Linked DNA regions of Homo sapiens. The protein of the gene in region 2 purifies or fractionates together with the protein of the main gene of each other region. This does not show direct contact. Each region holds a gene or a part of one and is shown on either strand. Other genes may lie near its edges. The genes, in order: GSTCD and TMEM178A.

Region 1 (3,812 bases), on a different chromosome or scaffold from region 2:
TTTTATGTTGTATCAGGAGACACATCACAGTGCTTCAGAAGTAAAAACATTAAGCAAAAGAAGTTTAGCATTCCTGTATTCCCCTTACTAAATAAATCATTACTTCCCAAAGCCTTTACAATATACCTCCCCTGTCCTACCCTCCTCCTAGCCCCCACAATAAGCAGGGCTTCCAAAGCATTGCTATTTGAGCTCCTATTTATATGTAAACATTCCATTTAAAAATCAACATAACTAAAATAAAGAAAAAAGAGTTATTTTCTAAAAATGTCTCCAAACTTTATAAATTAAGACTTAAATTCTTATTTTTCAATACTGCACTGAAATATTGACACACGTAAAGGGTATATTAGCCCATTTGCATTGCTGTAAAGGAATAGGTGAGGCTGAGTAATTTATAAAGGAAAGAGGTTTATTTGGCTCATGGTTCTGCAGGCTATATAAGAAGCATCTGCTTCTGATCAGGACCTCAGGAAGCTTTTAGTCATGGTAGAAGGCAAAGGGAGTGCAGGCATGTCACATGGGGAGAGAGGGTGCAAGAGAGAGCAAGGAAGAGGTACCAGGCGCTTTTCAACAGCTAGATCTCTCATGAACTAATAGAGCAAGAACTCACTCATTACCCCAGTGAGAGCACCAAGCCATTTACGAGGCATCTGCCCCCACGACCCAAACACCTCCTACCAGGTCCCACCTCCAACAACATTGGGGATCACATTTCAACATGAAATTTGGAGGGGATAAATATTCAAACTATATCAAAGGGCTACTTTATTTCATTGGTTACTGGGGTTTTTTAAAATAAATAAACTTTTATTCCTAATAGGAAGTTAAAATATTAAATGGTCAGGTAATTATGTTATCACTGTGTAGCTTCAAATAACAGAAAAAAGACATTATACTTACTTCAGCACAGGCTTTCAAGCAAGTCTTTTTAAAGCCCAGAAGTTCCAAAAGTTCCTTCTTTAAGGGGTCTGCTTCATAGGATTTCTGGATTATGTGTCTCAATACAACAGCAAGTCCTGCTCTACAAAAATTGTCTGATCGTTCTACTACTGCAGGCAAACAGCAATTTTGGACTATTGGTGGGAGCTCCTGCCTTGAAATAATCTGTATTTCAACATCCTGGATCAGGTCATCTCTTAGTAGTGAACTATCTCTACTCACCTCTTTGGTGACAACTAAGCAAATTTTAAAGATTTTACAGTCACAGTAAGATAACAGAAATAAAGTTACAGATGTATGAAGAGGAAAGATGCATCCTTCTGTTTGGTGAGAAAAGTCCAGGTACAGGTATTCTTCTTCTGTAAGACTTTTCTTTATGGCTTTCATTTTCTTCTTTCATTGGGTCACCTAAAGTATAAATTGAAGTGATTATGGTCTTAGAATATAATCATTTAGAAGCTAAAATAAAAGATGAATGTTTCAAAAGCCTGTTCTAGAAATCAGTAAAAATTTGCAGTAGATAATAATGCTATAAGGTTTGTTTCTGAAGACTGACTAAATGACTTCCAAAAGAAAAAAATTCCACCCTGTGCAATTAACTAGCATTAGAGGAAATATTACACCCAGCTCCTTTAAAATGAGCAAACCCCAGTGCTTTGCAATAGAGCCCTCCCAATCAAGTATTTTGGGGTCTCACTATATGTGAGAACAGGAGATAAATAGAAGGGGAAATAAATTAACCAAAAATACTGAGAGCTGTCTGGGGATAATATCCTTGAGAAGTTTTGACAGTGCTGGTCCTTCCATACTGCTTCTTTTTTACGACCCTACAAAATAATAGGGAGGGGATATTCGTTCTTTCAGGAGAAGTGGATTCTCCTCAAGTAAGTGATAGCTGCTGAGTGCTGAATCATAATATAAAAATATTTAAATTTCCCCATAACATGGATACTGATAGCTATCTTAAAGTTAACCTGTCCAAAATCCAGTTCCTTATTCTCTCCCACCCCTCAAACCTGCTCCTTATGTGTCTTCCCATCTCAGGTTACACCATTCTTTTCCTTCACACCCCCATAACCAAACCCTCCAAGGTCTTCCCACCCTCCTTAGAGAAAAGCCAAAGTTTCTGCAACAGCCTACAAAAATCTCCTTGATCTAATCCTCCTTTATGTCTCAGAGTTTGTCTCATTAACTTTCTTCATTGCTCACTGCTCCAGCCAAAGTAGATTGTTATTCCTCTAAAACAGCCATCTCCAACATTCTTGGCACCACGGACCAGTTTCATGAAAGACAGTTTTTCCATGGGAGGTTGGTGGGGGGATGGGGATGGTTTCCAGATGAAACTGTTTCACCTCAGATCATCAGGCATTAGATTCTCATAAGGAGAGTGCAACCTAGATCCCTCCTGCGTGCAGTTAAGAGGGTTGGAGCTCCTATGAGAATCTGATGCCGCTGCTGATCTGACAGGAGGCGCCATTCAGGCAGTAATGCTGGCTCACCTGCCACTCACCTCCCACTTTGAGGTGGGGTTCCTAACAGGCCACAGATGGATACTAGTCCTGGGCCCAGGGGTTGGGGACCCTTGCTAAAACACTAGGTACATTCTCACATCAGGGCCTTTGCATTTGGTGTTTCCAGTACCTAGAACACTTCCTCACTTCCTTCAGGTATTTATTTATTCAATGGCAACTTCTTACTGAGATCCTCCCTGACTACTCAATTTAAATCACAAACCCCAATCCCCACGCTCCCTGAAAAAAACCTTTCTATTTCCATCTATGTTTTTTCTTCCTAGCGCTTATTGCTATGGTGATATACTATATGTTATTATTTGTCTCCTCTAACTAGAATGTTCCATGAGTAAAAATTTTTTGTTCACTGCTTTATAGGTTTATTATATATATAAGCAAGCAGTATTTGACAAATGAAAGCAGAGATAAATATACATACTGGTTAAAGGTGCAAACACACACAGTCTTGAGGTCAGATTCTTCATGGCTATTTTCAAGTCATATTCCTTAAGGTTTTTATCAATTGTCCTGTCTTTTTATGTTTATACATTTCCCGGGTCAAAAATTCCTAATGTTCTAATACATAAATTACAATTCCAAAACTGACACTAGATGGCACTCTTTAAAAGTATTCACCATGGAAATACGTACCAGAAACATGACATATTAGAAGGAAAATTACTTTAAAAGCTGTTAAAAAGTACACATGCACCTCTTGTCTTTTAAGTGTATTCAAAATGTTAGTGTACACTTAATTTTAGAAAACCTTCATCATACTAAATTTTCTTTAATATTTTAAATCCCTTTTTTAAAAAAATCTGAAACAAGACCTAAACACTTTAAGCTTCTTAGTTCTTCATTTTTTAAAACTAAGGAACTTGTAATCCATTATAAAAAATAAATATAGTCAGTAAAGTATTATCTAAGTTTCTTAATAATACAAATAATCACTACTGCTTTATTTTATATTTCTTCTATTAAAATATAACAGATATATACCATGATTTGTTACTTCTTAAAAGATTATCTGGGGGAAAATTATTTTATATACTGTAAAAGCAACAACTTTTTAACTTACAGATGCCATTTTCTCCCTGAGCTTATTTTTTAAAAATTTTTGTCACTGAGAGATAATTTTAAAACAAAAAGGTATTTATTAAAGATCAAAGTTCAAAGAGTTTTTTTATAAAGCTGAATAGAGCTCTGGAAATATTTTCATTATTAATATAACACCTTTATGCTATAAGTCCTTAAAAACAGTCAAACAAAGTGAGATCTGTAACAACACTAGGGCAAAAAGGACCAACCACACTTTCCAGGAATTAACAGTCTTTTTGAGGAGTTTGCTCTGGACTCACT
Region 2 (4,390 bases):
TTAAGAAATTCATACCACAGCCACTAATGTCAGATGCCAAAACAAAGGTGATAATGTTTGCCTAATATGGGTGCCAAAATCATCTTTGAGCCAGGAAAATGTTGGTGACATTTTCTTTTCTCAAATTATTCATAGACTCAGAATTTTAAAGCTGCTCTTGTCACCCATACATTTCACAGATGATGAAACTGAGATCTAGAAGAATTATGTAACTAGCCCAAGGTTGGTTAGTAGCAACATTACAAGGCATTTCTGGACATCTCCCAAACAACAAATTATGATCCTATAATCTACCAATGCCTGTTCTTTCCTCCAAACTCCTCATTGCTTAATAGCGTTGGCTCATTAACTTTGCAAGAAGCTAAATTTACATTGTTATTAATTATAACAATGACAGATATGTGAACTAGAAATTTCTCTAAAGAATAGTCATCCCTCCTAATAATACCACAGACAAGGAAACCGAAGGCGAAGAAGGTCTTGATACTTGGAGAACACACTGCAATTTAGCAACAGAGCCAGCAATGGGGCCCATATCTTCTGTTCACAACCTAGAACTCTTCAGTGTTCTACACAAAAGATTAGCTAAACACCATCAATATTATAAAGCTGAGATTGTTTTCATCTAAAAATAGGCATTCGTGACTGGGAAAATCTAGTTCTTTTAACGAGTATATGAGTTCCGTCTTACGGAAGTACTGGGCTAGACAACCATTTGTCAGAAAGATTGTAGAAGGGAATTTGAACAACCAGTAGATGTTCAACTTCAATGACCTCTAAAGTCCTTCCACCTCTATTATTTGACCCTGGACTGCCCTGGAACTGGCACCTCAGTTAGCCAGGGCATTTGCAGAGGCATTGTGCAATATCCTGTGGGGGTCCCCTCTTCTACTGTAGGTTTGACTCTGCCCTGCTGTTTCAGGCATTGCTCTATATCCAATTTACATGCAATCAAATACTCTAAGCATAGAAAGTGTAAGGAAATGCAGTTCTGTCATTTCCAAAGACAGACTACACTGCTTAGCTTTCAAAATTGCCTTGCCTAAATGAGCACTCCATAACTGAGCCTCCACATTCAGCTTTTACAGTTTGTTCATGTACTATGCTACTATCAGAATTAATTATGCAGCATCTTCATGAGGAGAAATCAGATTTGGATGCAAGTTAGGAGAGAAAAGAAAATGGTGCACTTCCCAAAAGATTTTACTGTATCTGGTTCCCCTAAAAGTGCTGGAGTCCTTCCACACGCAGACAGATTTTGGATGGCAGTCCCCAGCTGAGTTAGCCATGGGAAGGAGGAAGTTGACATGTTTGAGAAATGAAGAATCCGCCAACTAGCAAGACTCTGAAGGCCAACACATTATTAACCCCCTCTTTTCTATGTCATTCCATTCCAGGCTGTAACTCAACACAAATCCGTCTGTTTGTTTTCCTACATGGCTACTAAATATTAAAATGTACTGATTTTGGACTTTTTCTTTTTTGGCATCATGAGTCCAAGAGAAGAGATGTTGATTTTTTTTTTTAATCTCAAAGGGGAAAAAAATACATTGAGTCAAGTTCTGAAAGTTAAAGGAAGCTTCACAAGTTGTCACACTGAATATTTTTACGTGAATGGGATTACCAAAAAAAAAAAAAAAATCAAACTATCTGATAGCATTCACAGAAGACAGGTGTTGCACAGATTTCAGAAGAACAAATTGATGCTCTGCAACTCAGTGCCAAACAAAACAAACAACAAAAACAACCTGACAAGGTACCACGAACAGAAGACAGAGTGATAAGCAGAGAGTGAGTGCCCAAATCTGGAAAGCTCTAGTTTAAAGGGCGAGGACATTTTCTCTCCTCAGTGCCTGGACAGCGAGGAGGGTGGGGGTATGGGGTCCTCAGGAAGGTTGGAAAGCAGGTGTCCTATCTGCCTCGGGCAGCCTCCACCAGCCTCCACCAGCCAACGATTGGTCTCTGAAGTCTAATCCACACACACCCTGCACTTCAGGGGTATGAAGGAAGGTTCCGGGGCCTCCTTCGCTGCCCATCAGCCCTGCCAGGCTGGGATGACCACATCAGTTCCGTCTGACACCAGCATCCGCACAATACAGGCAAAGCCCCTTCCCTCTCTTCGGAGGTCGGCACCACTTTTCTTCCAAACGGTATTTCCAAAAGGAGCACAACTTGAAGGAAGGAGCCCGGGTGAGAAAAGTCGAGTCTTTGACGGTTAGTCCCCCTCACGGGGAGCAGCGTCAAGAAAAGACACACATGTCAGGCAGGTGTACAAAGGCAGAGAAGGACGGGGAGAGAGAGAGAACCGGGGAATGGGAGGCGAAGGCAGGAAAGAAGGAGACAGAGGCGGGAGGTGCGGCACGGACTTGAAAGGACGCGCAGGATGTGGACGAAAGAAGAGAGTCAAGGAGAGGGAGAAGAAGGGAGGCAGTGGGGAAAGAAAGGGAAGAGATAAAGACTGGAGGCGGCGGGAAGGATGCAAGAATGCCCAGGCGCGGGGCCGCGGCTGGGAGGGGGCTGCGGGGACCGGCGCGCCCCTGGGAAGCCGCGGGCTGCGCTCCACGCGCGGGCGCCGGGGACGCGGGGTGCGCCCGCCGCTCACCTTTCAGGATGAGGGTGTCGATGTCCCGGTCGATGCCCAGGAAGTAGCACTTCCTCCAGAGGCCCGAGTAGGTGGCGAAGAGGGGCCGGCCGCACTCGGCGTCCAGCCCGCCGAGCCCCAGGAGCGAGCGCCAGGACTCGGGGTCGGCGCGCCCCGGGCCGCCCGGGAGCAGCCGGCGCCCCAGCGGGGGCGAGTCCCGCAGCGGCAGGTGCGACAGCGGCATCAGGCGGTTCTTCTGGTCCGGGGGGTCGGCGCCCGCGCGGCTGCGCTCGCAGCTCTCCTTGTGGCGCCGGGGGTCGGTCTCGTACCAGTGGTCGGTGAAGATGGCCGTGACGAGCAGCCCCAGGGAGCACAGGCTGAGGCCGAGGCTGAGCGCCGTGACGAGCGCCCGCGGCTCCATGGCTTCCCGCCCCGCCGCAGCCGCCGGTGGGCTCGCGCGCCGCCGCCAGACACAATGCACTTGGCCCCAGCTCTCCGCCCGCTCCCTCCCTCTTCCCCCCACCTGCCCCCCACCTCCCTCCTACGGCCTCCTCGCCCTGCGAGCCCGGCCCGGCTCGCTCCCTCTCCCCTGGCCTGATCTCGCCTCCCACCGCCCGCCCGCCCCCGGCCCGGCCCCCGGGCTCCTAGCCCTCCCCCGCGCCGCTCTCGCTTTCTTGCCCCCCTCCTCTTCCCCAGCCCCCTCTCCTCGCCCCGGCGCCCCCCACCCCGCGCACTCCTCTCGCCCCTCTCCCTACCTCCGATCCACAGTCCGCCCTCCTCTCCAGCGACCCCCCTTCCCCTTTTAATCTCTCCTCGCCGCCCTCATCCTCCTCTCTCCCCTTAACCCTGTCCCTACTTTCCCCCGACTTTTCTCCAACTCTTCCTCTCACACTTTCCCCCACTCATTTGCTCCTCTGCTCCCCGGCTCCTGGTGCATTTATATCCCGGCTCTGGACTCGGTGCCTCTCTCCACCTACCCCTCGGCACACCCCTCCCGTCCTCTTCCCTCCAACGACCTTAAAAGACATCCACCGACATAAGACTCACTCTTGTCACTTGTCCAAGTTGATTTTGATCAGTGTCCCGTTTTGTACCCAGGAGCAAATCCCATCCAGGTCGGGCTGCGTGGTAGCGTTTAACTCCTTGGAATCTTGATCTGGAGTCCGAAGGTCCCTTTGTCCTGCCGCCTGCCGCCTGCAGGATGAAGCCTCTGAGACCCCTAGGCAGCCAGCTCTATCTGTCGCGGCTCTTTCCCTCTCACTTGCCCATCGCTTAGCCTCTAAGCATTCTCTCTGCTCAAGCCCCTCTTCTGAAAGAAAAAGACACCGAGTGTCAGTGGAGCGATAGAACGATGACCAGAGATTTTTCTCCCACTTCATTTCAACCTGCTATGAGATGGACTTCTTTTTTCGTTGACTACGTCCATCTCCCGCCAGACTGACTGGCCTCCTGGAATTTCTAGAAGAGCCTGGAATCAATGAACCCTGGCAGTGGCACCTGCTCCATGAGGTGATTATTGCCTTTGCATACAGCAAGCCCCCAGTAATAAATCAAAGTAATGATTTTCTCCTGTGCAGGTTTCCTTCTTGGGCTGGGGGGTGGGGGTCAACAGCAAAGCAATGCTACACACCAAAGTCAACACCTGAGCCTGGGGCAGTTCTTCCATCTTCCAGTCACAGAGGTTACTTCCAAGAATGGCAGGCAGATTCACATTTTCTAAAATGAGGAAACGCTAGGACCCGGGGTGCTAAGAGTTAATCACTTGTGCGGTATAGTCAGTCTATACCACAGAGGTGCAATACACTCGTG

Evidence for each region.
Region 1: the proteins of TMEM178A (region 2) and GSTCD purify together in Homo sapiens (affinity purification with mass spectrometry; one large-scale study listed by BioGRID and IntAct). This does not show direct contact.

What each region holds. Positions count from the first base shown.
Region 1 is NC_000004.12:105,715,131-105,718,942, reverse strand, and holds part of GSTCD (glutathione S-transferase C-terminal domain-containing protein), read right to left. Parts: intron 1,351-3,812; 5' UTR 1,330-1,350; coding exon 904-1,329; intron 1-903.
Region 2 is NC_000002.12:39,664,587-39,668,976, reverse strand, and holds the start of TMEM178A (transmembrane protein 178A isoform 1 precursor), read right to left. Parts: upstream 3,061-4,390; 5' UTR 3,003-3,060; coding exon 2,603-3,002; exon of another isoform or gene 1-2,602. UniProt on the Homo sapiens protein: Acts as a negative regulator of osteoclast differentiation in basal and inflammatory conditions by regulating TNFSF11-induced Ca (2+) fluxes, thereby controlling the induction of NFATC1.